Linked DNA regions of Homo sapiens. The protein of the gene in region 2 interacts with the protein of the main gene of each other region in a pairwise test. Each region holds a gene or a part of one and is shown on either strand. Other genes may lie near its edges. The genes, in order: PROM1, ITM2B, TMEM59L and NAALADL2.

The links.
Region 1: the proteins of ITM2B (region 2) and PROM1 interact in a protein complementation assay, tested with the Homo sapiens proteins (one study listed by IntAct).
Region 3: the proteins of ITM2B (region 2) and TMEM59L interact in binary tests that used the Homo sapiens proteins (3 or more experiments, as listed by UniProt).
Region 4: the proteins of ITM2B (region 2) and NAALADL2 interact in binary tests that used the Homo sapiens proteins (3 or more experiments, as listed by UniProt).

What each region holds. Positions count from the first base shown.
Region 1 is NC_000004.12:15,982,200-15,990,421, forward strand, and holds part of PROM1 (prominin-1 isoform 1 precursor), read right to left. Parts: intron 7,626-8,222; coding exon 7,533-7,625; intron 5,518-7,532; coding exon 5,464-5,517; intron 3,839-5,463; coding exon 3,758-3,838; intron 3,630-3,757; coding exon 3,561-3,629; intron 2,157-3,560; coding exon 2,064-2,156; intron 1-2,063. UniProt on the Homo sapiens protein: May play a role in cell differentiation, proliferation and apoptosis. Binds cholesterol in cholesterol-containing plasma membrane microdomains and may play a role in the organization of the apical plasma membrane in epithelial cells.
Region 2 is NC_000013.11:48,263,672-48,271,545, forward strand, and holds the end of ITM2B (integral membrane protein 2B), read left to right. Parts: 3' UTR 1-6,686; downstream 6,687-7,874. UniProt on the Homo sapiens protein: Plays a regulatory role in the processing of the amyloid-beta A4 precursor protein (APP) and acts as an inhibitor of the amyloid-beta peptide aggregation and fibrils deposition. Plays a role in the induction of neurite outgrowth.
Region 3 is NC_000019.10:18,607,545-18,616,532, reverse strand, and holds the start of TMEM59L (transmembrane protein 59-like precursor), read right to left. Parts: upstream 3,664-8,988; 5' UTR 3,575-3,663; coding exon 3,404-3,574; intron 2,662-3,403; coding exon 2,517-2,661; intron 2,430-2,516; coding exon 2,338-2,429; intron 559-2,337; coding exon 406-558; intron 1-405. UniProt on the Homo sapiens protein: Modulates the O-glycosylation and complex N-glycosylation steps occurring during the Golgi maturation of APP. Inhibits APP transport to the cell surface and further shedding.
Region 4 is NC_000003.12:175,806,657-175,811,593, forward strand, and holds the end of NAALADL2 (inactive N-acetylated-alpha-linked acidic dipeptidase-like protein 2), read left to right. Parts: 3' UTR 1-3,892; downstream 3,893-4,937. UniProt on the Homo sapiens protein: May be catalytically inactive.

The DNA.
Region 1 (8,222 bases), on a different chromosome or scaffold from region 2:
ACGACTCTCCCCAGCCCACCATGAGGCCAAATGCCACTTGGAAATAACACCTGCTTCACCCTCACAGCTTGACCCTGCATTTCTGCTTTGCTCCTGGCTGAGTTCAGAATTACAGAGGTGGCACCACCTCTTGGCTCCTAACTTCCAGTCAATTTGTTCCCCCTTCCCTCTATGTTCTGTTAGATTTCTGTTTTCAACCTTGTCTTGAGAAGCTTTATAACTTTATAACAACCTTATCCTTTTTCTGGAAGCTGCCTCAATCCTTTTGGGGACAATTGAGATACAAAATAAACATGTTAGCTAGCCCACAGTCTATCGTATTGACTAAATGGATGCCCAGAGCTCTTCCTTACGATGTAAACCCTCTGCTACACAGCTCCAGCCTATGATCTTCCTGAGCAGCCTCTAGGCCTCCCCTCTGTCCCTGGTGATCTGTGGAAAGGCATCTGGTGGCTATGTGGTTCGACTGAATGGGGTGGGTGGTGGAGGCTGGACATAGAGAGACGTCAATTCAGAATCAAGCAGGTTGGCTCTGGACTCCCCTAATGAAGGCTTCAGCCAAAGCTGGCGGCAGGGGCCACCAAGCACAGGACAAGAAAAGTAGTTGCAAGAAGAAGGAAGCATCCAGGAAGCAGGGCCTAGGGTCTGCGTGGTTGGGTCGGAGGCAGAATCCTTTTCACTCAGGCATGAAAGACCCTCCAGCAGACAGATGGACAAGTGAACGAGGGAGGTGGACAGACAGGGCAATAGGGATGAACTGTGCCAGAGAGCTACCTGACAATGCATCAGTGATACTCTGTGCCAGGTATTATGCCAGACAACAGGGACACAGCCTTGAATGCACTGGTGACTCATGGAGTGGAGAGTCTAGAGTGTGCTGGAGAGACAGGTCTTAATCAAAGAAACATATAAATATGTAATTGAAACAGCAATAACATCTCTAAAGGAAAAGCATAGAGTTCTACAGGAATGAGGAAAACGGAGCTCAGCCTAGTTTTGGGGATCAGAAAAGGCTTCCTGGAAAAAAGACATGTTTGAGCTAAGACCTGAAGGCGGAACAACAATAGTAGTGAATATTCATTGAGTGCTGATGTTCCAACAGCGTGAAGGGCTTCACATGTGACCTCTCACTGAATCATCAAAACAGCCCATGTAGGCGAGGAACTCAGAAAATTTCAGGAATTTTTCAAAGTCACAGAGTTCTGAAAATGTAGAAGTGGAATTTTCATTCAGAGTTGATGTTCTCCACCATTGTGTTACCAGACCTGGAGGAGTTAGGTCTTAAAGTGGGGAGTGGGTAGGTGGGAAGCGGAAGAGGAGAGAGAAAGAGAAAGGCGGCGTGTGCCCATCTCCAGTCCAGGCAGAAGAAACGGCATGTGCATGGGCCCTAAGGTGGGGAAATTGAGATTTATTTGATGAAGTGAAAGAAGATGAGTATGTCTGGAGCACAGAAAGAAAGGCGGGCAGGCAGAGAGCACACAGTGAGATCTGGAATGGGGAGGCTCAGCCATGCAGAGCCTAGTATGGGCTATGAGGAATCCTGATCTTTAGATAGCAATGGGAAGCCACTGAGGTGCTTTCAGCAGAGGGAGAGGATCCACTCACAGAGAGAGTCAGCATCTGTTGAGGAGGGAACAGAGCTGAGGATTAAGCCTGACTAACTGGAACTTACCATCCCAATAGTCACATTTCTAAGGGCTTTTTAATGACAAATGAAATTTGATGCAACTTTGGGGTTGTAAATGTAGTTGTACTGAGTATTCTTTTGAAGATGAGAAATCTGCACACCCGTGACTGTCTTTCTGATTATTCTGAACTAACAGGAGTTTTCTCCCTGCAGGTCTCCTGACTCATAAATATAATCCTAGTGAGGAAAGAAGACAACCGCCCAGAACTTTGACTTTTCTAGTCTATTAGCATCTCAATACACTGATCAAAATATTACATTTTAGGTTTTGGATTCTCTCAAGCAGAAAACAAATATTATAATGTATATCATAATCCAGAAAAACAACCAAAGATGATGGATTCATTGTGTCTTCTTTTGAAAGATGAAATCTTACCAAGGGGTCGATAATGTAGCTACACAGAAAGACATCAACAGCAGTATCTAGAGCGGTGGCCACAGGTTTGCACGATGCCACTTTCTCACTGATCTAGGGGGGTGGAAACACAGGGAAACTTTGAGCTGCATCCACAAAAACCCAAAGGAATGAGACGTGCCATTTACTTTTGACTTGGTGTCACAAAAAGGATCTCCATGTCCTCTAAGACAGGGGTCCCCAACTCCTGGGTCACAGATGGATACCAGCTAGTACCGGTCCACAGCCTGTTAGGAACTGGGCTCCACAGCAGGAAGTGAGGGGCGGGTGAGCAAGCAAAGCTTCACCTGTATTTACAGCTGCTCCTCATCTCTTATGTTACTGCCTGAGCTCCACCTCCTGTCAGAGCAGCAGCAGCATTAGATTCTCATAGGAGCATGAACCCTATTGTGGAACTGCACATGCGAGGAATCTCAATTGTGCTCCTTATGAGAATCTAATGCCTGATGATCTGTCACTGTCTCCCATTACTCCCACTGATTCTACACTGTGGTGAATTGCATAATTATTTCATTATATATTACAATGTATTAATAATAGAAATAAAGTGCACTATAAATGTAATGCCCTTGAATCATCCTGAAACTACCTCCACCCCCGGCCTGTGGAAAAACTGTCTTCCACTAAACCAGTCCCTGGTGCCAAAAAGGCTGGGGACTGCTGCTCTAAGACATGGAACTGACGGCTGATGTGCATGGATGAGTTCTGCATATACAGTTACAGTCGGCCCTCCATATCCCTGAATTCTGCATCCATGGATTCAACCAATCATAGATTAAAACATATTCAGAAAACAATGGATAGTTGTACCTTTACTGAACATGTACAGACTTTTTTTAATACAGTATACCAACTATTTACATAGCATGTACATTGTATTAGGTATTATAAGTAATCTAGAGAGATTTAAAGCACACAGGAGGATGTGCATAGGTTATGTGCAAATAACTATATCTTTTATATAAGGGACTTGAGCACCCAAGGATTTTGGTATCTGCAGGGGACTCTGGAACGAATAACCCATGGATACTGAGGGACAATTGTATATATTTTAAAGCAAGATCCTTATTCTCTCTGAGCCTCGGTTTCCAGTTTCCTCATTTGTTTTGGAACAGTGAGACCCAGCCTACAGGACTCTGAGAGAATTAAAAAGTTCTCGTGCCCAGCATAGTGTTTTAGTTCAAATTTGTTACCTGGCCCCTTTGTTACCTGAAAAAGGGGGTGGGAAGCAAATGGAAGAACTGCATATGGCAAAGGTGAGCAAAGGGGACCAGGAGGTGGCTGTCCTCTGACCTGGTGGGAAGCCCCAGAAGTCTTGGTCCTGCACATCAATGTCCTTTCACTTACTTCCTACCAAATTATGGGAAATTTAATTTTATTTCTTCCAGATTTTACCCTAGAAAATGGCTATCCTGAAACTTGACCCCCCTTAACATTCATAAAAGATAAACTACTTACAGAGAACTCGATCCACTGCAGATAATGTTCAAAATATCCTATTATTGTTCTCCCATACTTCTTAGTTTCCTGGAAAGAAACAAAAGATGAGTAGAAGCATTAAAATGATGACAGCATACTTAAACATTATAAATATTTAATCTGTAACATTCAAGTGCCCACTTATGGACACGCTTACTTTAAAAAAGAAGGCTCACCTCAATAATAACAGAGGAAGTATTGTTTGTGATGAAGTTCTGAGCAAAATCCAGAGAAGCTAGAATCCTAGTTACTCTCTCCTGAAAGACACAGCCACAGTTATCAGGGTATCAAGTCATAGAAAGTTTTAATTAGACAATTTGCATATTGATTCAAGTACTGTAACTCAGCTCTGCAACACCACGACCTGGACCTGCTAGTTAAGAGGAAGACAGAACCCACCCAGGCCCCTGAGGGCAGGGAAGGAGATGAGCTGAAAGTGAGCATTTACTCTAGCCCAGACACTGGGCTAGTCCTTGATAGGAATGGCCTTGCTGGACTTGCTGGAAACTCACAACGAGGCAGGAAGGAAGGTACTGTTTGTTAGGTTCCCTTCACAAATGAGGCAGCTCAGCCTCTTCACGGTCACCATGCTGGGGAAACATACGACAATGCTGGGATTTGCACCGAACTTTTTTTTTTTTCACTACAAAACCCATAGTCTTTGCACTACAACACAAGCAAAGACGAGTCCTCTGCCAACCCACATGGCAGCTTGGTGCAAATTGGAAATGGGGCCTTTTCTGCCCAGGGACCTCAGGGCACAGAGCCTGGCAACTCAGTCAATGGCCAGTTTCTGCCCTCGACTAACCCCCTTGGCTGGGCCCCTCATGAAAGGCCTTGCACCACTGCACACCCTCGCCCTGTTCACAGAGGTAGCAAAGCACCTGCACGTAGTCACTGGTGTGTTTCCAGGTTCCCCTGGCATGAGACACACACCTATGAAATGGCAACTGTGATCAGAGGCATAGCGAGGGTCCTGGAGCAGAGTAAATCTAAACATCTTCAAAGGAGCTGAGCCATGATGTTGGTCTCACTGAGAAAAGTGGAAGGAGGAACATTTAGTTTTATCCTGTGGGGCTGATACCCAAAACCTGTCATGTACAGACTATTCCGTTCAATGAAAAAATATCTTCTGAGTTGCCCATTGGTACTGTAGATACAAGATGAATACAACCCAGCCTTGCAGCTCTGTGTCTGCTGAGGGAATGCTTGCAGCCCACACATGGCCCCTGTGGTAGGTAGATTGCATTAGCTGTTCAGGATTATTGATATGCTCCTTGGATGGCTTCCCAGAGCGTGGAGTATACTTCCCCAGCCAGACGACGATGTGTGTGACCATGTGACTTGCTTTGGCCAATGGAACGCTGGTGAAGGGGCAGGGTGCCCATTCTGAGCTTAAAGGACAACCTGTGCCTCCACTCATCCCCTGAACTCCTGTCCTCCACTATGAGGACATGAGGTGCCCCAGACAGGAGCTGCTCCTTCAGGCCGGGTCTCTCAATGGGAAGATGTGTAGAGAAGCCTGCTGTCAAACCAGCAGGGAAAATGAACATTTATACTTAGAAGGCACTGAGGTTTGGGATTGTGTGTTAGGCAGCATTATCTCTGTGAAAGGGACCAATGTACCTTCCAAGCTTGCATCCTACACATCAAAACATAGATTTCACCTATGTATCTAATAGCCTGCTAAGATGAGGTCTGCACTTAGAGAAGTACTTGTAGAAAGGAAATAGTAGGAAAGCCCAATTTGCTATTTAAAATAGGTAGATAACTGAGGCTTTTTTTTTCAACTTAAAGTACCTACAAAAATCCACATTTCTAGCATTCTTTGTGTGGTATTTTATAACAAAACCCCATGACAGAAAACAAAGTAAACCCTTACCAACAATCCATTCCCTGTGCGTTGAAGTATCTTGACGCTTTGGTATAGAGTGCTCTGGCAAGAAACAGATAATATTTCCAAAATTATTACATGAAGCAGCAAGATCACATACCTTGTGTCCTCCCTTCCCACAAGATAGCCATCAAATCTGTCTTTACACTGTAATGGTTTCATTCTAGAAAAAATAACCAACACAATTAACAATGTGTACTTTCTTTTTTTTTTTTTTTTTGAGATGGAGTCTCGCTCTGTCACCCAGGCTGGAGTGCAGTGGCACGATCTCAGCTCACTGCAAGCTCCGCCTCCTGGGTTCACGCCATTCTCCTGCCTCAGCCTCCTGAGTAGCTGGGACTACAGGCGTCCTCCACCACGCCCGGCTAATTTTTTGTATTTTTAGTAGAGACGGGGTTTCACCGTGTTAGCCAAGATGGTCTCGATCTCCTGACCTGGTGATCCACCCGCCTCGGCCTCCCAAAGTGCTGGGATTACAGGTGTGAGCCACCGCGCCTGGCCAACAATGTGTACTTTCTATGCCTCTGGTGTAAGAAAACCTGAAGAAAACATTGGATACATATCCTAAAGCTGTGAAGAACAGCAAATCACATGTGAGGCATCCAAGAAATCCCTTTGAATTAGGTTTGATCAAAGTGGAAGGCATTATTTAAAGCAGAGCCTGCCCCGCAAGAGTGGTTAACCTGAATGGTTTAGACAGGAGGTTGACAAACTTTATCTGTAAAACACCAGAGTAAACACTTTAGGTTTTATCTGCCATAGTCCCAACTACTCAACTTTGTCCTTGTAATCAAAAGCAGCCACAGAGAGTTTGCAAATGAGTGGGTGTGGCCATATTCCAATACAATTTTATTTACAAAAACTGCTGGTAGGCTGAATTTAGCCTGCAGGCTGTAGTTTGCAGGGTCCCTAGTTTGCCAACCCCTGGTTTAGATCATAGGTCTCAGGTAGGAAGCACTCTGCCTATTTGTGGACAGGTTGCCCTAGCTCTGAAAAGGCCAAAGGGTCCTGTGTACTTGGGAAAAAAGCATTTAAAAAAATGCAAAACCAGCTTAAAATGTTAACAAATTTGTGTTAGGCATAAACCAGTTACAGAAAATTGTAAATAGCACTGGACACAAATTAAGAAAATTCAGTGACAGGACTTTGTGAATAATCTAATAAATTAGGAAATCGAGAGAGAAAAAAAGAGTATTGGAAATTAGTTCTGGGAAGTTTAGTGGTTGGGATGTTCGGATGTTTGGATGTTGGGGCTAAGTGGATTTACTTGCTTGTCCAAACCTGAGCAAGCTGATTCAGTAACCCAGTTTCCACACACTTCTCTCCTTGATGGCTACAAATACGGCCCACACACAAGCATAATATAATAATTCCTCCTCTTTACTGAGATCCTCTGAGGTCAGGTCCTTCATTTCCATGAACAGGTAAGAGCAAGGCAGTTATTGATCCCAACATTTTTAGATGAGGAAACTGAGAAGCTACAATAGTTTGGAGAGCCAGAAGCAGAATTTAAAACCAGGTCTGTCTAACTCCAAAGCCCACATTCTTTCTTTGTTAGAAACTGCCTTTATTGCATTAAGAAAAGAAGCCAGAAGGTGGTGAGAAGCAAATGGAAAGGATGGAAGAGAGGAGAGACGAAGCAACGCCCATCGAGACAGCAGACAGGGCTAAGTGGATCTACACAGAGAAGCACTTAACCTCACCTTCACATATTTCTAGACAAAGCTCGGAGAAAAAGAATCAAGTGAGTCCACAGCATTGTAGCTAAATGCGGGGCATAGGAGGGCCTGCTCACAGCAATGGAAACTAGAGCAAGGTGGAAGAGACAGCCACAGATTTTATCTAACTGTTCACACTCAAATGAAAAACGGAAGGGAATAAGCAGCAGAGGGAGGTGCAATTATTTTGTCTAAAGGCCAGCTCAACTTCTGGGGCTGAAGCCAGTCAGCTGGGACCTATGAGAGATGAGCATGTGTCGTGAGGCTAAATGAAAGCCAACTAGCTGCAGTAGATTTTGCTCAGGTCACAGTGAAATACAATACGTCGTTGACTGTTACCAGTGATTGTTCTATAGGAAGGACTCGTTGCTGGTGAATTGTTTTAATAGTTTGTGCATCTCTTTTCAGGGAGTTCCTCAAATTTCCTGGGGGCTACAAAAAGAATAAAAAACAAAGATCAATACCATCTTTCCAGACTCAAAGCACTCTCGCTATCCTCAGGGGCCCTGTGTAGCCAGGAGGGCTGCCATGACATAAGCATGCAATGATGGCTGTGAGTGGGCATGGGGGCTGGTGTGAGGGATAGTGCCAAGACACCCTCCTTCAAAGCACAGAACCATGGACTCTCAGCAATAACCCACACCCAAGAGCCCTTCCTGAGTGCCAGAGACTGTGTTCTCTCCACCTCACCATGATACAGCCACTCTCAGTTTCCCATTTTACAGGTGAGAAAACCAAGGACCCATAGAGAAATTTTTATTTAACCCACACTCAATGAATGTTTAATTTATTAATGAATAACAATCCTATAAGGTAGATACCATTACCCCATTTTACAGATGAGGAAACTAAGGCAGAAGGGAGAAATAACTTGCCTAAGCTCCTATACCGAGTCAAGACTTAGACCCAGGTCTTCTTCAAGAGCCCAGGTTCCTCGTCACCATGGCGTGCTGCTTCTTGGACGGGGCCAGTTAAGGCCAAGTAGTCACCAACCAGCAGAGGAGTTGAAAGGGGAAGCTTATGGGGCTG
Region 2 (7,874 bases):
AGTTCAAGATCAAGTCACCTGCAGATTCAGTGTCTGATGAGGTCCTCCTTCCTCACAGAAAGCTCTCTTCTCTCTGTGACCTTATATCACAGATGACTCTGGGTTCCTCTTACAAGGACACTAGTTCCATTCATGGGGGTTCCACTCTCATGACCTAACACCTCTCAAAGGCCCCATTTCCTAATACTGTCACCTTGGGGGTAAGGATTTCAACATGAATTCTGGGGGGACACAAACATTCAAACCATAGCAAGTTCCATAATGCACCCCATCATATGTGTGTGTGTGTGTATTTATTTATTTATCTAAGATAGCTCTAGTTTGCTGCTTTGCAACACATTCTGCCCCTATTGCATTGGTTTAAAAAAAAAGTACAGAAGTCAAGATGAGACTATATAAATCTTGACAAGTTGTTGGCCGTGATTGCTCTTTTGTGATGCAGGAGTGAGAATCTGGAGAATCTGGCTTAAGAGGTGGCTGAGAATTAAAATAATAGGCATGAAAATGCTTCATACAGCTCTGTACAGTTGTTGACAGTGCCTTTTTTGAAACCTATCACTGCTATATGTTAGCAAGCAAACACTGATCTTGTTTTGTAATGTGTAATTGTTCACTTCTGCTTTCCCTGTATCCCTTTTTAGATTCCACACCCATATTAGTGAGAAGCAAGAAAAAAAAATGTACACAGTGTCCTAAATGTTGTTTATCTCGAATAATAGAAGTAGGAGTGTAAAACTTAAAGGCTGATTAATAATGCAAATGAAAAGGCAAATGGATTATTGAATAGAAAAGGTCTAGATTCTATGTTTGAATGTGGTTATGAATTAATATGGGCAGAATCTCTAAGATTCTGCTAAGTGAACATTTAGTAGTTTACTAGACATCTTCTCTTCCACCTAGCAAAGAGTTTGTTGCCCAGAGTTATATAAATCCTACTCTATTGCACACTAATCTTTGCATGTTTAACTCTTTGGGACTTAGGTTCCTAGATAAGGACTTCATGTGTATCTATTTAGAAAAAGAACATTTCTTCATTTCCACAAAGCTACACAGCCATCAGTTCGTTCAATATCTTGTCCAAAGTTATTGCTAGCGTTCTTCTTTCTGAGTCTTTGTGGCTAATGCTTTTTTGAGGAAGAAGCATGATTTAGTCTCAGCTCTCTATTGATCATTTTAGGCTTTTATCTTACTGAAAAAATTAAGCACAATTTAAGATTTTTTTTGAAATATTTACTGAATTTTGAGGCCATAAATTATTTCCTGATAGCACACATGTATGGGTTGTAGATTCCACACTTTTAATCTTCCAGCCACCTATTGCAGATTGGTTCTGAGAAGCAGGATGAGTGGGAGTGGGCTTAGGGGTCAAAATTGAGACCTAAGTGGTATAAAACAAGATAATCCTAGCTTCCTCCCACTTAAAATAATTTGATGGGACTTCTGTATCTGATTTTTAAGCTTGCATTTGTGTTTATATTTTCATTGTAAAAATATCAAATAATACAGTTTTTGAAGGTAAAAAGTAAATGTTCCCGCCCTTCTACCATCCTCCTTCCTCAGTCCCATTCCCCAACAGTTTAACGTGCGATACAATAATGTGTGACACAAAATGACCTAGTTCTTGCCCTAGTGACTAAGCAGATGCAAACGCCTTCTTCTTTCCAAACAGTGTGGTCTTATCCCCGTCGCAAATGGAGGATATTTAAGAAACCCAAGCCAGAAACCCCACAGTCTTCACAGTCACTGTGTCCTCCACCTCCTAGCAGCTTCCTGCTGTTCTGCTCTAGTGGTTCTCTCTGCTTCCCCACACCCACCCGTAAGCCACAACAATCTTTCCAAAACACGAACTTGATGGTTTCATTGTCACACCCCAGCTTAAAACACTTTCCTGGCTTCCCCTGGTTCTTAGGATAAAGACCAAAATACTTAATGCTGCACAGTCCAGTCCCAACCCACTCTCCAGCTTCATCTTAATCACACCCCTCTTTGCTCCTAGTGTCCTACCACATTGCCTGACTTACTGTTTCTTGGTAAATGCTATTCTTACTTCCTGAAGATTATTTCCATCTCCTCACCCGACACCCTTCAGTTAGCTTCCACTCAACCTTCAGAATTTAGTTCAGGTGACCCTTCCTCAAGAGAAGATTTTCCTGAACCATTAGGAAAGGCTTCTCTTGTTTCTCAGTCTCATAGCATCATCTGTCTCTTTTTTGTGACTTGAATATAATTAATATTTTATATTTTGTCCTTGTTGCTTGTTTGGTTAATAGATTTCCACCACTAGACTGCTCAATACGTTAGTAGGGCACCTGACACATAGTTGCAGCTCTTATTTATTGAATGAATGAATGATTCCTTCCCGTACCACCCTAGTCTTGCCCACTGTCATTTTTATTCTGGGTATTATATTTCCCAACCAGTTGTCTGACTTTCTCCTCAGATCTCATCCCCATGGGTCTGAGTGAGTTGCCTTGAATATAAGATTCAGTGATGGTGTCCTGCTGCACTTAAGAGAAAATCCTTTTTTCAAGCCCTAAAATCCTGCCCTCACTAGACTTCTCTCACCATTTCTCTGTTTGCATCCTAGCCTTTTAGTTTTGGCCTCATATAAGCTTGCAGCCCTGCCTGAAACAGTTGTCTCTGTCCCCACTCTACCCCCTGCCCTCCACAAAGAAAAGTTAACTCTTACTCATCTTTCAGATCTCAGACTAAAAGTTTCCTCAGAGATGCCACCATAGCTCTCTATTTCTCATACCTTTCATGATACTTCATCACCTGTCTTCATGAAGTCCTCCTCTAGACTATTAGCAAAATGCTCATACTGTGTCCTCAGTATTTGGCACATAATAGGTTTTCTTGACACTGAAGGAAGGAATAAACATCTGGTAACTATAGCTAGAAAAAAAGGAAATACGGTATCTACTTCACTAAAACCAAAGGGGGTTTTTTTGGGCAGACAATCTTCATTATTCAGATGGAAATTAATGTTTGTTGAATGAATGAGCTACATTTCATGGATTAACTCCATGAAATGGAGTTCAGCTAGTAAGGGTTATACTTTGAGGCTATTTCATCTTGATGGGCTTGTTGTTCAAAGTTAGAGCCTCATTTTAAGTAAAATGTTCTGTGGGGGCCATATTAAGATTTTCATATGACAGAAGTGTATATATATCCACAAATGTTTCAAGCCAAGATTATGTCTTCTTCCATAATGCCACCTTCTTCTAGGATAGTATTTTTGGGCCAGATGGTTTTCCACATTTAAAACATACCAACATTCTTTTAAGGCCCAGTGATTATCAAAAGGGATTGGCACTACATTTTAAAATGTAGGGGGGATTTTTGATTGTCACAGGACTAGAGGATGCCATTTGTATTTAGTAGATGAGGCCAGGCAGGATGCTAAATGTCTTAAAAGTCCGGGAGTCCTGCACAAAAAATTACTGCCCTTCTTGATTTGCCAATTATGCCCCTGCTGGGAAGCATGAAAGGAGAGAGAAGAGCTTTCAGAATGTCAGGGATAAATATATCCATTAAGCCTTCAGACTAAGATGCAGGAATAGTTTTCCATTTGGGTATGAATACGGCAAGTTCTTAGAACATTTCTTAAAACATAATTAGCCAAATACTAGTGTAACAGCTACAACTTATCTAGTTTTAATCAACTCCAGGGAACATTACACTTTATTTAACCCCTAATTATCTGATAACCCAAGTTCTGTCAGAAACACTGCTGAGGCATCCAGGAAGATGAGCCTGTGAAATTTGAGAATCCTTCATGTCTCTGGAATGAGTCCCTAGATTCTAGCCCTGCAGCTAGCTGACACTCTAAAAAATTATGAGTGCCTTCCTTTAGCTCCCCATAGAAATGTCTTTGTATAACCATGGCATGATATTATTCTCTTGACTTTTGTTGAGGATTGATAGAAATAAAAATGAGCCAGAAATGTTTCTTCAGCTTTTGTAAAGTGCTGTTAAAAGCATTATGTCATATCTAGTACTTCTTATCTAAGTATTTTAAAATTTAGTGTTAGGAAAATTTTTTTCACATAGGATACATGTTAATATTAGGTAGTACATCTAAAGAATTCATTTGCTTCCCTTTTGCCTTGGTTGCTGGGAAACTCAGAGCCAAACTCGGTGCTTAGATTAATTACTTTCAGCCTAGGTTTTTCTGTATATCACCCTTTCGGTAGGGCTTGAAGTAACCCTTCAGTTTGCTCATATTTTGTTGTGAGTTTTATAGATAGTTTACATGCAACGAAATGCATATATCTTAAGTGTTCAACTCAGTGAGTTTTGACACTTTTCTTTGTCCATGTTAACAATCATCAAAACATTTTCATTGCCCCAGAAAATACCATTGTGCTCCTTTCCGGCAAATATTCCTTCCCTCTGCTAAAACTACTTTTTCATTTCTATGACCATAGTTCAGTTTTTGGCTATTCTTGAACTTTATTTGAATGGAATCGTACATATATAATCTTTTTGTTTGGCTTTTAAAACTCAGTATAACGTTTTGACATTTGTCCATGTTGTTGCATGACTCAGCAGTTCTTTCTTTTCAGTTGCTGTGTAGTAGTCCATTTCTTTTGGTTTTGTGTGTGTGTGTGTGCTTTTTAAATTTATTTTTTATTTTTTTTTTTTTGAGACAGAGTCTGGCTCTGTCAACTCAGGCTGGAGTGCAGTGGCATCATCTCGGCTCACTGCAATTTCTGTCTCCCAGGCTCAAGCCATCCTCTAACCTCAGCCTCCCGAGTAGCTAAGACTCTACAGGCGTATGCCACCATACCTAGTTTGTTTTTGTTATTTTTTTTAGTACAGATGGGGTTTTGCCATGTTGTCCAGGCTGGTCTCGAACTCCTGGGCTCAAAGCAATCCACCCTCCTCGGCCTCCCAAAGTGCTAGGATTACAAGTGTGAGGCACTGTGCCCTGCCAGTATTCCATTTTTTGTGTATACCACAATTTATCATTTTTTTCTGTGTAGGTATTTTCATTGTTTCCAAGTTGGGAAGTATGAATAAAGTTGCTATGAACATGCATGTACAAGTCTTTGTAGATAGCTCATGTTTTAAAAAGTGTTTGTTTAATGATTTCATTGCAAAATCATCTTTATTGTAAACATATCTTTTTGAGGGTAGATTGGTAAAATATACATAATAAATACATGACAATGCAGGAGTCCAAGTATTATTAGGTTTACAGTCATAACAAACACCAAGAACCATTTATAAATTTCAGTTTCTCATTGTTTTAGAATGGAAGGTCTAACCAAATATGTAATGTATCCCTTCAAGTAAACTAGTATAACTTGGGTACCTTCTCATATAAATTCCCCTTAAGGCATACGTTGCTGTCTTTTCCAAATTCCCATTTTGCTTGTCCAATAGGCATTATCAGATACAACATGTTCAAAGGCAAACTTGATTTTCCTCCCATGGTTTCCTCATCTCAGCTCCTTTTTTTTTCCAGTTGCACAGGCTAAAAATAGGAAGTCATTCTAGATTCCTCTCTTTTTCATAAACCTCACATCAAATCCATCAGCCAATCTGGTGTGCTCTACCTTCAAGATACGGATTATCCAGAATTCAGCCGCTTCTCACTGTCTCTACTGCTAACATAGTAGTCAAAGCTGCTATCATCTCTTGCTTGGATTGGTGCAATGGCCTCACAACTGATCTTCCTGCTTCCATACTTGACCCCTAGAGCCTCTTCTAAACAGAGTAGCTAGAGCGATCTTTTCTAAATCTAAGCCACATCATGTCACTCCCCTGCTCAAATCCCAACATTTTATTCAGAATAAAAGTCGAACAATGCCCTACCTGTAGGTAATCTAGGCCTCCAAAGCTCTTCTTACATCACCTCCTGTAACTCTCCCCCTTTCTCACTCCTCTACAGCCACACAGCTGCCTCACTTTCCTTTGAACGTACCAAGGGCAATCCTGCTTCAGAGCCTTTGCACTTGCTGTTTCTGGGCCAGGAATTCCACACCCTCCTTCCCTCACATGTATCCCAAGGCTCACTGCCTTCCTTCAGTTAAGTCTGCTGGAATGTCACTTCATTAGGTATTGCCTGATCACCTTTTCTAAAGTGAGTCTCACCTCCACCCTCAATGCTGGCAATGTCTGTCTGTAGTGTATTCTTAACAATACAGATTAGCACAATGCAGGCCAGACCATGAAGACTGTTTCAAGTTCGAGGATGGGCAAAAATAATGACTAGGACTTGGCTCAAGATTCCTCAAACAGCCAATAAACAATGCAAAGAATAAATGAGAGAGTAATTGGAGACAAGCTTTCCCTTGGCTTCCCTTCTTTTCTCACAGAGGCTTTTCCAGAAGGTGGTCATTTCCATAGCCCATGTGGAATGAGATGTCCACTAGGGCAGAGAAGCACAGAACCGTGGGCACTGCTTCCCTTCCTTTAACCCTATCATATTGCTGCCCAGTGAGCAATATGGTCATTGGTCAAGAAGGCTTATGCCCAGGTATCCCTGTGGCTATGAGCATTGCTCCTTATCTATGCCTCTGCTCTTAGACTTTTCCATTCTGCCCTCTTAGGGGCCTTCCTGGCCATGACCACACTACCTTATTTTTCTCTATAGTACTTATCACCATCTGACATGTATTTATGTTTGTATTTGTTTATTGTCTGTCTCTACAAATAAAATGTAAATTCCCTAAAAACAGAGACTTTATTATTTTTGTTCATGTTACATCCTCAGCACCTAGTAAAGCACCTGGCACGTATTAGGAACTCACTAAATATTTACTGAATGAACTTTGTTCAATAAATTTAACATGGTTCTATGTAGCCTCCTTTTTAAAAATTGGCTCTGTTATATAGACTTCAGGGGCAACTGATAACAAACAAAACCAAACTTGGCTTTTTTCCCTTTTTTTTTTCTTTAATTGTAGTTTCAGAATTTCATCTGGGAGTGGGAATGGCCACAGGAATGCAAGTTCTGTACACCTCAGATTTGGTGCTAGTGATGTTGCCATGTTAAGAAAGTGAGCTGGGCCTTGTGCCTTCAGTAGACAGAATCAAAATCTATTACTTTATTTTAATACCCGAAGTTCAAATTACCTCTTAGGTAGGGATCCCTTAAATGTGATAGTGCTGAATCACAATGGAGGAAAAAAATGGCAAAGAGTATATTGAAATTCAGACTGATTCACAGGTAAAAGGCCTCTTGGAGACAACACTCTGAGAAAGGGACTGCTTTTTTAAAAAATCTGCATGTTTTGGGGTCGAATGGGTTTGGATAGTAGAGACACAAAATGGAAATGGTAGCTGCTTCTCATTGATTCATTTTAATGTAATTTTTAAATTTTAATTTTTTTTTTTTTTTGAGACGGAGTCTCTCTGTCGCCCAGGCTGGAGTGCACTGGCGTGATCTTGGCTCACTGCAACCTCTGCCTCCCAGGTTCAAGCAATTCTCCTGCCTCAGCCTCCCAAGTAGCTGGGACTACAGGTGCCCGCCACTACACCCGGCTAATTTTTGTATTTTTAGTAGAGATGAGGTTTCATCATATTGGCCAGGCTGGTCTCGAATCCCTGACCTTGTGATCCACTCGCCTCGACCTCTCAAAGTGCTGGGATTACAGGCGTAAGCCACTGCGCCCAGCCAAATTTTTAAATTAAAAAAATATATATATTTATGTTTTTATTTTCTGTGGCGATGAGGTCTTGCCTACATTATGTTGCCCAGCCTGGTCTCAAACTCCTAGTCTCAAGAGATTCTCCCACCTCAGCCTCCCAAAGTGCTCAGATTACAGGCATGAGCCACTACAGCCAACCCAACAAATAATTTTGTCAAGTATCTAGTGTAATTCTATTTTTTGGAAGTCAACATTGTCATTATAGTGAAATAC
Region 3 (8,988 bases), on a different chromosome or scaffold from region 2:
TAATCCCAGCTACTCAGGAGGCTGAAGCAGGAGAATCACTTGAACCTGGGAGGTGGAGGTTGCAGTGAGCTAAGATCATGCCATTGCACTCCATCTTGGGCAACAAGAATGGGAGTCCATCTCAAAACAACAACAACAACAACAAAAAAAAACCACAGCGTTTGTAACCTAGAGCCTCTGGCATCCACCTTACTGCCAAGAAGAAGTAAATGCCTGGGAATGAAGCCACCACAAAAGAAAGCAGAGTCAAGGCATGGAGTGAGACACTGAGCCCCTGGATCCAGCTGTGCCTGAAGCTCGCCCACTGTGGACTTTGCATCTCATGAGCTAAGAGCCAATGCATCCCATCTTCTTACCCTGCCCACCCATCTGCCACTCTGGCGTGGCCCCTGTCAGAGGTCTCACCTGAAACACCACCACTTTCCCATTGTCAGTCTGCAAGTAGTATGTCCAGGTGGAGGAGACAAATCCCTGGGCTGAGTTGACAAGGTCATTGCAGAGGGTGGAAAACAAGTCCAAGAGGGAGAGGGCCCCACTTGGAGCCTCCAGGACCTTTCTCTGGTGAAAAAAGGTCCAAGACACAAAGATGGCACCGAAATAGGGCATTAACCAATGAATGGGAGGGGGCAGGATGTGGTGGCTCACGCCTGTAATCCCAACACTTTGGAAGGCTGAGGCAGGCCGATCACTTGAGGCCAGAAGTTTGAGACCAGCCTGGACAACATCGTGAAACCCTGTCTCTACTAAAAATACAAAAATTAGCCAGGCATGATGGCGCACGCCTGGAATCTCAGCTACTCCAGAGGCTGAGGCAGGAGATTTGCTTGAACCCAGGAGGCAGAGGTTGCAGTGAGCCAAGATCACACCACTGAACTCTAGCCTGGGTGAAAGAGTGAGACTCCATCTCAAATAAATAAATGAATAAATAAACTAACAGGAGAGGAGCTAGGAGAATTCACTTGGATTGGATGTGGCTAAGTGATTTGGGCCAATAGGACTTCTTATAGTGAACACAGATCTCAGCGTGGCAGTTGGCTTCCTGTGTACCCTTAGGGAAGTGGATTGTGCTCTCTGAGCCCTAAAATGGGTATCGTTCTCTTCCTTCATGGAGTAGCCATGAAATTTCAACTAGAGGATGCCTGCCAGGTGCCTGGCACGGCACAGGCACTTAATGCGTAGTAGTCCCTATTACTAAAAATATCATCATCCTCATTATTCTTATTTTGACAGCGTCAAGACGGAGGTCTGATGGCCGGCCATGGTGGCTCATGCCTGTAATCCCAGCACTTTGGGAGGCCGACGTGGGAAGATCACTTGAGGTCAGGAGTTCAAGATCAGCCTGGCCAACATGATGAAACCCTGTCTCTCCTAAAAATACAAAAATTAGCCGATTGTAGTGGGGGGTGCCTGTAATCTCACCTACAAAGGAGGCTGAGGCAGGAGAACCACTTGAACCCGGGAGGCGGAGGCTGCAGTGAGCCAAGATTGTACCACTGCACTCCAGGCTAGGCAACAGAGCAAGACTTCATCTCAAAAAATAAATAAATAAATAAGAGGGAGCTCTGAATTGGAAGGGCTGACAGTGCAGTGAGCTTTTCTGAACAGCAGTGAAAGCTGGGAAGGGGTGGAGGAAAATGGGGGAAGTGGGGAAAGGGCTTTCTGGGGAGTCCCAGCCCCTAGGTCTCTGGCTATGCTACATGATTTTCTGTGCCTCAGTTTCCCCATGATGCAGCATTGCTTGGACTACAATAGATGAACCGTTATTATTTCTCCCATAAGGCAGTGTGTGCGTGCTTGCGAGGCAAGCCTGCTCTACCCTGAGCCGCAGTTCTGAGCCCCTCCAGGTGACAGTGACCACCAGCTCATCACAGGGGAAGGGCTTAGACCAGCACCTGGCAGCTCTGGGGGCGCCTAAGAGGAGTGAGGTGAGGAGTGGCCACAGCTCTGGTGGCTTCAAATCTCGCCCCTTGCACAGCCCTGTGTATGACCTGGGAGGTTGCCCCCTGGGCACTAAATGGGGGTGACATTGTCCTTTGTGCCTCCAAGTGACACAAAAACATTTGGGACAGGTTGAAGTCAGGCCCGAACCAGGACAGATGTTTGATAAATGATGGCTGTTTTCTGCCACTTATTCCTGAAAAGGTGGTGGGGCATGGGGGGCGTTGTTGCATGTAACTAAGGCTGGAGACATGACGGGGCTGGATGGAGGTTGCCCTGCAGGCCTGGTATAGAACGCAGAGTCTGGCAGAGCCTCTGCACGTGAATGAAGATTTCCCACGGGGTGAAGAGGGTGGGGGTATTGGGAAAAGGGACCCCAGGCCGCAGTGGGAGGCCCACCTTCTGCTCCGGCTCAGGCTCCGCGGGCTGGCTCCAGCAGCCGTGGCTACAGGCCTGCTGCTCTGCCTCCTTCACATAGGCTTCCACGCAGGCTGTGGGAGGTGGGAGCGGGTGACTGGGGACGGCCCTTCCCAGGCCACCTCTCCCCACGCTGGCCCACCCTGCCGGCGGGCCCTCACCTGCTTCACACTCAGTTTGGGTGGCATTGGGCTTGGAGCTTCTGGCCACAAATCGGCAGATGGAGAAGAGGCGGCAGCCACGCTCGCAAGCGCTGATCAGAACGGCTCTGTCATAGGGAGACTCGGAGGCGCCCTCCAGCCCCGCCTGGGGGAGGGGAGGACAGGGGGCTCAGGCCATGGGGAGGGGCAGGAGGAGGGTGGGGGGACCGGAGCATTCAGCAGAGGCAGGGAAAGGCTTCCCCGCTCCCCACGACATCTAGCCAGATGGAGATGAAGTTGGGAGAGGCTACAAATATTAGTGGGGGCTCTTAGCTCTGAGGAGGGAGATGGGGAGGGAGCTTGAGAAGAGAAATGGACAGTGAAGGTGGAGAGAAATGAGCCTTCCCCCCACTAGGTTCCAGGGAGGAGGGGAGACATGGAGAAGGATTCTCAGACCTGGAGGAGGAGGGGGAGGCTCAGAGGAGGGGGTTTTGGTCACACGCAGATCAGGCTTGAATCCTGGGGAGTGGTGGTATGAGTAGGGGCTGGTAGCTCTGAGTGGGGAGGGAACACGATGTGGAGGAGGAGGAATGAGGTGGGGGGACCATCAGGCCTGAGGGAGCTGGGGGTTGGGTGCTAGAGGGTCCTTACCCAGCAGAGTGCGGAAGGAGCCCGGGAGGTGGTATCGGCCCCTTATCGCAAGGACCTGCATCCCCAAGCACTCCCCCATCAGAGGGAACCCCAGCCCGTCAACTACTGGAGAGATCTCCCCATTCCCGACCCCCACCTCCCCACGGACACCCCCACCAAAGTCTCCTGCTGTCATCCAAGAGAAGCCCATCCCAACGCCTCCTCCTTCGGAGAGATCCCGCGTCCCCCGCTGGCACCTGGCACCGCACGCGCCTCACCTGCGAGGGCTGCGGGCCGAGGTCGCGGTCGCGGCACCGCAGCTGGCAGTTCTGCGTGTCCCCGAGCTGGGGGGCGAAGGGATCGCGGGCGGACGGCGCGGAGGCGGCGGGCGGCGACGCCAACAGCAGCAGCAGCAGCAGCGGCGGTGGCATCAGCGCCACCGCAGCCATGGCCGGGCGGAACGCGGGGGGCGCGGGGGACTCCAGCTCAGGCCGGGCACGGAGGATGCAGCGGCTGCGGCGGGGACCGGGGCGCTGACGTCACCCGAGCGAGGCAGCCTGGGAAGCGGGGGGTGGGAGATGCGGAGAGCGGGCGGGGTAGCTGCGCTGCGGCACCCGAGGCGTGCGGGTCGGGCGGGGCAGGTGCATCGCGGCCCCCACCGTCTATCCCATCGCGGGGGTCCCAGGACACCTCCCTGGTGCCCACGGGCGGGGGATCTCTGCTGGCGCTTGGGGCCAAAAGGAAATATATAGGGGGATGGGATGGAGGGGACTATTCCCCAGGGGTGTCGAGGAGAGCGGAGAGCTTGGCGGAGGAGGCGACGTGTGAGCCGACCACGCGGGAGAGAGGAGAAAGGGGTGTCCAGGCTACAAGGATCAGCGAGGATCCTGAGAGAAAGAGCTTGTTGCAGGAGGAGGGAGGGCGATGGGGCTGGAGTCCAACCAGGGAACGGAGAGGGAGGAAGGTGAGAGCCGCAGGACCCGGCAGCTGAGTCCTGGCATCTTCTCTTTTGACACCCAGGTTAGAAAGGAGACAACTTGCGCGCAGTTTGCCTCCTCCGGGAAGCCCTCTGAGCCCCTCCCTTGCTCCTTCAGCCTCGCCTCCCTCTGGCCCAGCCCTGATCCACTGACCTAGGGAATCTGGCCCTGTCTCCCCAAGGCTGGAGACCCCTGGGCTGGGGCTTAGTGGGAGGGGACACAGAGGTATGCTCAGGAGCAAGGGGAGGGGGTGATGCTGACATGTCTAATTCTCATGGGAAAACGGGGCAAATAGCGACACTTCTGACTTCCATAACCATCACACCCCAGGGCGATGGACTGTAGCCCCAGGAGCCGAATCTCGGTTAGAGGGTACCCCCAGCTTCCTCTCCGCCAGATAAGGGAGTGGGGACGCCCCTCTAAACCCGGATCCTCTGCAAAGATGCCCCCGCTTTCGCTGGCATGCCTGGCGCAGGTGCCTGCAGCGCCGCGCAGCAGCCCGCAGGTCCCCCACCTACGCTCCGCCCCCGCAGACGGGGCGGCAGCCTCGCAGGGTCTGCGGGTTAGAGGGCGGCTCAGGTTTCGGCCTGGGAAGAGGGTGTCCCGGGTGGGGGCCCGGCGCACCCCCTACTCTGGCCTGCGGCCGCGCTTTCATCTCAGCGGCCCCCGGCCGGCCCCCACGTGGCTTAATCAGGCGCGGCTGTGCCTGGCGGACCCCGAACATCTGGATCCCGGTGCGGCCCCTCCCCCGCCCCGCCCCGCCCCTCCCCTCCCCTCCCATGCTAGGCCGCTGCGACCCGGCGGCGAGGGCCTCCAGCCCGCAGTTTGCGCCAGAATCCAGCAGGAGAATTCCGCTTCTAACCCACCCGCGCGCCAGGCCCGCACCTTGGGAAACAGCCCTGTGCGTTATGACCAATACTGTCCCCCATTTCACAGGTGGGAAACTTAGGCTCCGGGACGCGTTGGCAAAGTCAGGATTCAAGCCCACACATGCTAATTCCAGAGGCCCGCGCGCGCCTAACCCCTCCACAATTACTGTCTTTCATTCATTCCAACGAAACACTTTTTCTTGCAACAACCGTATAAGACAGGTACCGGTAGCGTTGCCCTTTTATATGGGTGAGGAAACTGATGCTCAGACTGCAAAGTGGTTCTGTCCAGGTGACAGGGAGAGAAGCAAAGAAAAGCCGGCAGAGCCCTGCCAATGATGGGAGGTGACCTTTGGGCATTGCTTAAAACGCATCAGGGAGGAGGGACACCCCGCGCCCTTTTGCAGAAGGAGAAACTGAGGCTGGAGGAGTGGGTCGATCACCCAGGTCGCCTGAGGGGAGAAGGGAAAGAGGCTGATTGCCGCACACCCAGCCCCCTTTCCGCTGCACTAGGCCGCTGGGGGGGTGAGCGGAAAGAGGACTTGACCCCGGCCCCCAAGGTGAGCCCCCGCGCCCCTCCTGCTGTTCCCGGGGGAGCCGGTCCAGGTGAGGGGCGGGAGGGCCGGCGGGCGGCCAGGGTCGGGTTTCAGGAAATCCGCCGACATTCCTTCGGGGCTTAAGAGGGAAAGTTGACTCGGCGCCGCCCTCGCCCCCCCCCCCACTTCCTACCCCCCGGGGCGGCCTGGCTGGGGGCGGCAGGCGGGGGGCGCTGAGGCCGGCCTGGGCGTGAATCAGCGGCAGGCCAGGCGTCCGGGAAGCCACAGCAGCCGAGGTCAAGGCGGGCAGCGGACAAGCACCCTTTGTCCCTTGCCGCCCTCACCACGACCCTGCTGACCCCCACCTCCAAGCAGGGTACAGGCCAGGGAGGAGGCAGAGCACCATGGCGCCGGTGGTGGTTGCTGAGGGTTGTTGGGGGAGGACGGAGGGATGTGGCTGTCCCCCTAAAGCAGCTGGTGCCTCCTGGGACCCAGACTTCAGAGGCTTCTCAGGGTACAGACGGGCAGGGAAACTGGCCTCCCTGGGGCAGGCCTGCAACTTCCCAGGCAGGTCCCCTAGGCAGGTCTGCAACTCCCCAGGTCCCGCCTCCAGTGCCTGAAGTCCAGTGTGCATTACACTGAGCACCCAGGCATTGCTTCTCCCCAGGCTCAGCCTCCAGGGCAGAAATTATAAAGCCTAGGTACACACGGGCCCCACTTTCCTGTGCCACAGACCCTGAACCAGGTGTCCAGACCCTCACTGCCCCTTAATTCCTGAAAGCACCTGCCTGGAACACCAGGTAGCTAATCCCATACTGGGGAGCCCTGAGCACGGGGCTTTCAGAATGGGAGAGACAGCTCTCAGCCTTCCTCACTCCCAGTGGTTGTGGGTCCCCACAGGACCCTGAAGGTGCCATTTCCACTGCCCCCTCCCTGGTGCACCCTCAGTGCCCTGGAATCACGAGGGAGCTGGGGATGGAGGCCCCCCCCCCAACCTAATACCTCTCATCCAGAGGTGACCTTGGAGTGGAGGGTGCAGGACTAAGGAGGGGTCCCTCCCCCAGCCCAAGGGGAGGCCCTCCCTCTGCCCAAGGGGAGGCCCTCCCTCCTTCTGCCCCTTACACATTCCCAGCCAACTTCAAGGACTTGGGTCAATATTTGCCAGAAGTTCCATTGACGCTAGCTCCCTTTTGTCCTCAAGGAGATAATGGAACTGGGGAGTAAAGGGTTAAACTTCTGGGGGCCCTAAGGGCCGGGAAGGATGCACTCTGGGGTCAATTCCCTTTCCCTGAAGTCAAAGGTGTGGGGTAAAGATCACCCAAGGGCAGAAGTCACACTCCAGGGTGGGGCTGGGCAGGATTGGAAAATGGTCCTTCCCTTCTGTTGGTAAGAACAAGAGAGGGATGTCTACTGGCTAGGGTCACACAGCAAGACACAGAGTGTGGGCCAGGCTAGGACCCCAGGCAGCATGACTTGCTAGGACTGAGTTTTCTTGCTACTTGGAGGGAGTAAGAGTTCTCCATCCTTTACTTTTACAAATATTTAGTGAGTGCTTCGCTTTCAGCCCTCACTGGGCCCACCACTGGGGTCCAAAGGGGCTGAGGCTGCCCACAGTCTAAAGAAAATCAGTTGCACAAGAAATGAAATGGTTGGAAGAGTTGTGTTTCAAAAACAATAAAACAAAGTGAAGGAGAGGGAGAGTGCTGGGGGAAGGGTGGAGGGCCTCTCTGAGGAGGTGGCACTAATCCTGTGAAGTGATGGAAGAGAAAGGGCCAACTGGGGAAGATGTGGGGAACAGCATTCCAGCAGAGGGAACAGCCAACACGCAGAGGCCCTTCTATAGTAACAAGCCTGGTATGTTTTGGGAAACAGGGCTCCAGTGGCTGGGGCGGAATGAGGGAGAGGAGGGGGAAGAGGAGAGGGAAGAAGAGGAGGGGAGAGGATGGCGAGAGGGTGGCAGGACAAAGATCTGCTTTTTCTTCTTTTAAAAGCTCCCTCTGCCTGGTGTGCCGAGAAAGGCAGAAGGGTTATCAGGGAGGCCCTGGAGGAGGCCGGGAAGCATCCCTGAGGGAGACCGTGGGGCCTGGATCTGAATGGGGTGGGAAAAAGGGGTCAGCATCTCAGAATGGAGATGTGTTTTAGAATCAGAGCCAACAGGATTTGCTGATGAATTGGACATGAGGGATGAGCAAAGGAGAGAGTTGTCACGTGCGCTTCCAGGTCTCTGGCCTGAGCACCTGGATGGATGGGAGAGCCCTTTCCCAAAACCAAAATGACTGGAAGAGAAGCAGAAATGGAGGGAGGAAAAAATCAAGGTTTTGCTCCAGAAGCCTGAAGTCCTCCCAGGAGGGAGTGAGGCGTCTCTATCCACACAGAGAGCATCTGCAGACAGGAGCCATGGGGGAGTAGTGGTGAGTATCCTAAAAACTCAATTCCAGCCAAGGACTGCCACCTCCACTTAACCCTCTGGGTCCCCTGGCAGGTGGGACTATGGCTCCATGTTTCAGAGGGGACAAGCAGGGCTGGGGGTCACCTCTGCTCCAGGATATCCTCCAGTGCTGTGCTAAGGGCTTGGATTGTAGAGACTTCTGCTGCCCTGCGTCTTCCCACAGAAGCTCCTAGACTGGGTGGTGCCCACTGTGCAGAGGAAGAAACTGAGGCACAAAAGGCCTGGTTTCCCGAAGTAAATGGCAGCGTCTCTCCTTGTCTGTCTTCTCCATCCAGAATTCAGATGGAGCAGGGGCGCCCTGGGCCCCTATAGGCTCCCATCCCCCAATCTTGTTTTTTGACAGTCTGGAGTCTGAACTGGAGATTTAAGTAGGAGAGGGTGGGGCTTCAGTCTTGGGCAGACAAATGGGGGCTCCTGAGCCCCCCTCAGACACTTTTACCCCCTTGGCTGGTTGGGGACCAGGAGAGAGAATCCAGGCCTCTAAGGGACTCCTGGAAAAGGGGACTTGGAGCCGTTCCCTTCCCTGGGCGCTGCAGCTGGGGGCGGGGCTGCGACCAAAAGTGGGTAATTGCACCCCCCAACTCTCATTTCAGGCACCCCCATCCGCAGCAGCCTTGGAGGCCAGGAACCCTTTATTCCTGGGCGCCCGCATCGGGTGGGGACCGGGAGGAGGGAGATGAGACGCCCGGACCGGGAGGGGTCCCGAAACTCGAGCAATGGCCAAAAATAATAACACGGAGAAGGCTCTTTGCGCAAAAGAAGGAAGACAAACTATGCGTCGCTCCGGGCAGCCGGCGTTACCTGGAGTCGGCGGGCGGTGGCCGCCGAAGCGATTACTCACCGCGTGGCGCACCCCACCCGCGGGCCGCTGAGTGGATTTTTCCGTGGCGGGGTGTGAATAGGTCCCGGGGAAAGAGCTTCTTACCGCTCTCCTCCTGGGAATCCCTCTTACTGCGGTGCGGGACCCAGTTCCCGCGCAGGCCTGGGTCCCGGCTCCCACAGGGGACTACATCTCCCCGTCTGCCCACGCAG
Region 4 (4,937 bases), on a different chromosome or scaffold from region 2:
GGCACTGGTGTTTTAGAATTTTTCCCATGTATCCTTTTTTTTTTTTTTTTTTTTTTTTAATTCCCACAACAACCCATTTCAAAATGAGAAAACTAGGTTGAGTGACTTGTCCACAGTTCCAAAGCTAATAAAAATGATGAGGCATATTTCTCTTCTGGGCCCACTGTATTCAGTTCTTTGTTCTTTACACTGAGTGCCGAAAAAAAAAATCAGACTATTTTGATTCTAGAAAGTGAGATAATTGAAAATGTTAACATATTTCTCCAAAACTGATCAGACTGTGGAGTCTGTCACTTTTTTGGTATAATAAAGGAGTTTGAAGAAACAAATGACATCATTCCTGATGATGGTAGCCCACTCCAACAAAGGCGTATATATGTAGGCAAGTTTGAAGATATCTATAAGAGCATTAAAAGGCAAGTGCACCATTGTGGAATATCATGACGAGTAGGCTTACAAACAGTAAAAAGAGACCAGAAACCACAAGTCTTACACTTTCATTCTCTAAATGCTTATATAATTTCACTAAAAAAAGAAAAGCAGGTGCTGTGATTTAGAACAACAGTTTTATGTTATTTTTAAAAATTCAGAATAACCAATTGACTTTTTAAATTAAATAAACGTAGAGCATATAGTAAGTTTCCCCACAGGAAAGACAGATGTTAACAAAAATAAAATAAATGATTATTTGTGACCATGTTACTAATGATGAATCAGCATCTTTGCCTCAAATGAAAATCTATAATTATTTGTATGATAAATTGGTAGACCTAGCCAAAAATGTTCTCATGAGACATTCTGTGATATGTGTAATTGATTACTCCAAAAATTAAGCTTTCTCTGAGGGTAACACATTGTCATCTCATTGGTTTAATGGGCTATTTAAATGTGCCTTAGCCACACATTTGCTTAATAGAAAGGAATTATTTTAAACTACCAATCCATATGTTGAGTGGAAAGGAAGTTGGCCCACATATTCCAATAAATATATCAGCAATATAACAGTTTCATCATGGGACCATGGATACAGTGCAGGGAAAAAACAAACAAACAATATTTGAGAAAATATATATATTCTGCCCAGCCACACTGGTGAGTTTTTATTTCTTGTATGAGTTTAAATTGCCAACTTAAAAAAGCCTCATTAGAATTTGCTATTCGAAAAGACCTTAAAAACCCTCACAGAGTTCTAAACATCCCATTCATTGAAAATAATTTTCAGTTAAGTAGATTTGTTTTGTGCACTTCACAACTTTTAGGTGACATGAATTTGAAGCGTAGCAAAAGAAATGTATAAAGATAGCCTTTTCTGGTCATTACCATGTCTACTCAAGTTTCTGTTTTCTAGGTACACTCTAGCATTGTAACTTTTTCCCCCTGAGAAGTAATTTTAAGATCTATCAGTCTCAATTTAAATGATCTGTTAATCAGCCAGAGTTTTAGTTTCATAATATCGTTCCATTGCCTGACAAAGATATACACACTGAAGTGCCTTTAGCAGACCTGGGACCGTCAAGAATCTTGTTACCCTGATTATTGCAAGATGACATATTTCTTAAGCCATTTATAATCTCATATTCGGGTTGAATCTGAATTTACAAATAAAAGGGTTAAATTGAGGCAGTTTCAAGCAGCATTTAGGAAAATGAAGTGGCTTCAAATTTTAGTGTTTCTGGTTACATTATTTTGTTTGAATTATACAATTACATAATTTTCTGTAACCAAAATGGTAATTTTGATGGATTTTTTAAATGCCAAAATCCAATCATCAAGGCCAAAGAAATGCATGATTACTCTGATTTCTTATGCACCATTCAGTCAAGACTTAACTCAGAGGCAGTTGATTCAGTGCTTACATCTAGACAAAGCTTTAATGAGTGCAGACCCAGCCTAACAGTATTTCATCTAATTTCTTTGATGGCTTAAGCCAATAAGCACTGAGGTAGCTTTTCTCAGAAGGAAACAGATTTTATTTTCCAGGGGCTAATTAATATGCACCACCTAAGTCCCCAAAGGATCACACAGGTGCCTGTATCATGCCATATGTCATGTGCTATATTCCTGCAAGCTCAAGAGATTAATATACAATCATTATTATGAATTATTATGTTGCATTGAAGTTAATGTCGGTCTTTTGTTCTAATTAAAGTACAAACGTGGCATCTGAATAGAAGCTTAGCTAGAGAAGTGGAGTTAGAGTCCCTATTTTAATGAACTACATATATTTTTCAATCAAAATGTGTAATTATTTAATTATCTAGCCTGCTCAGTAATCATAACTCTCCAACTTCTTCAAAGGGCCTTTATTCAATATGTTACCACTCATATGGTCATTACTTGGTAAGTGTTTTATATTTTGAATTTCTTAGATGCTTTCAGTGTATGTGCTAGTGTTTTATTAATATTAAAAATTTTTGTTTACTTATATATCAAGCTGCTGCAAATGGACTACCTTATTTTAAAAGTTAGAATAAAATGCTATTACTCTCTAAACAGAACTTTAGCATATCTGTTTGATAAGAAATACACAAACAAAATATTTTTCTATGCTATTGCAAATTGTCCGCAGGAAGCAAAATGCCAGATGGTTAAGTGTAGCTCACATAATTATATTCCAAAGGTGTTATAAACAATTCTATTTAGCATCTGAGATAGGTCTATATTAGGCAATTTCATGTTTACATTTCTAACAGAAAGGTTTAATGGCAAATATTCCTTATATTCTAACTTGCTACTTGGAGAATATGGATATTCTGAAAAGAAAAACCCTTTCTAGAACACTGTGCAGGACTAATTTTTTTTTAATAGACATCCAGAAAATAGCCTGGGCAACAAAGTGAGACCCTGTCTCTCTTAAAAAAAAAAAAAAAAAAAAAAAAAAAAGAAAAGAAAAAGTAGCTAGGCATGTTGGTGTGCACCTTTGTAGTCCAGCTACTAGGGAGGCTGAGGCGGAAGAATCATTTGGGCCCAAAAGTTTGAAGCTGCAGTGAGCTAAAATCATGCCACTGTAGTCCAGCCTGTGTAACAGAACCTATCTCAAAAAAAGGAAAAGAAAGTCACATGCTGTTGATAGTAGTTTTATATGTATTTGGAATGTTAATATGGGACACATGCATTTAATACTTTAATCATGTATTCAATGTAGCAGCATTTAGATATGTAAGATTTTAGAAGTAAAATCTCAGTGGTATAACATTTAAAACACAGCCTTAAAATGAAGAATAGGGATGAGCAGGAGAAAATTTATAAATTAACCCAGGGTAAAATTTGGAGGAAAATTTTTCCAAATAAATTTGCTTTGATTAAAAACACATATCTCTCAAGAGGTGTCCCAATTACTAAATTATGTTGAACTGTTGTGGTGTTTAGCCTTGTTCAAAATGATTTGATTATCATCTGGATTCAGAAATCTTTTCATTGTACAGAGATTTCATTGTCATTGTCGTTGTTGTTAACTGATTTTTAATGATATTGATTTAGAGGCATTTGTCGGTAGTTTTTAAATTACTATATAGGGTTGAATGTCTAATTTCTATAATGTGTGGATGCCCATCAGATATTTAGTGCATTCTATATTTAGCCCAAGTGTGATCACAATTTATTTTATAACTTTTTATGTGTTACTTACATGACTCAATATGCATCTTACTTAAGAAATTATGTTGTGATCTGGAGTGACACAAATGGATTGAGATACCACATCCATTAAAAATATAAGTGAATATTTTATATTTAAGTTGTTTAAATATTTGCACATTATTGAAAACATAGTACTAGGAAATGAAGGCACCATTTAACAAACGTGTTCTGAATCATAATTTTCATGAGTTTGTACGTGAAATGTTAATGTTTAAAACACCCATTTTGAAATTATTAAATACAGGTAAAAACATTGCTATACTGTGTTTTTATGACAAAATATACAGTATTTTATGTGTGCACATGAATTAGTTATTACTCTATTTTATTAATGAATTATTTTTACATAATATATATGACAGCCAAACAGGTGTTCACTTGTTTAGGGAAAATTCTATAATATTTTATCATCTTTTTTTGTCCTTGCCTTCCATTCTTTTCTTGAACATTTAGTTAGATTTGCAGTTTGTGACAAGTTCCATCAAGTAACAGTACCTGTATCAACTGCAATGTTAAACAGTTTTGTTTTCTCAAATTTGCTCTAAAAAATGCTCTCAGTTATTTTTCACATAGAAAAGAATTTTCTGTTTGCATGGTGAGTGTAATAGATTTCATTCATTTATTCATTCAGGAAATATTTGCTAAAAGACTCTTCTAGTCCAGGCACTGTATTAGGCACTAGTGATACAAAGATGATTAGCACAGATTAGCACAATTTTACTTTTGGAGCTTTACAGTCAAATAGGATACAACACTTCAGTTTAACTAGTAGCAATATCCATAGATAGTACAGTTTATTGCAAACATATTGGCAGAGCAGAGACGGTTTAAAGGTGCCATATGTTCAGGCCACATGCCAGTCCCACTGGACCTTCCTTAAGACTCTCTAAAGAACAGTGCTCTTTCTCTAACATCTCTGCTATACAATAGCCTGCATTTGGTACGGGCATAGCACTGTGTCAGACTCTGGTTGCCAAGCATCACTTGGATGAAATCTTTTAATCTTTAAAAAAGCCTATGAGATAGGTGTTATATCATTTTGTCCCATTTGATTGATGATAAAACTAATGGTTAGGGCAATTAACAACTTGTGACAGTTATTATACTACTATATACACACAACTACATAGCTATAAAAAACTTTTAAAAATCTGCAGGAATATATATATATATATATATATATATATATATATATATATATATAGTGTGTATATAGACACACACAGAGGAGGTAATATTAAAACAACATATAAAGTTATGTATTACTCATGGATGTGTATATATATATTCAAAATATT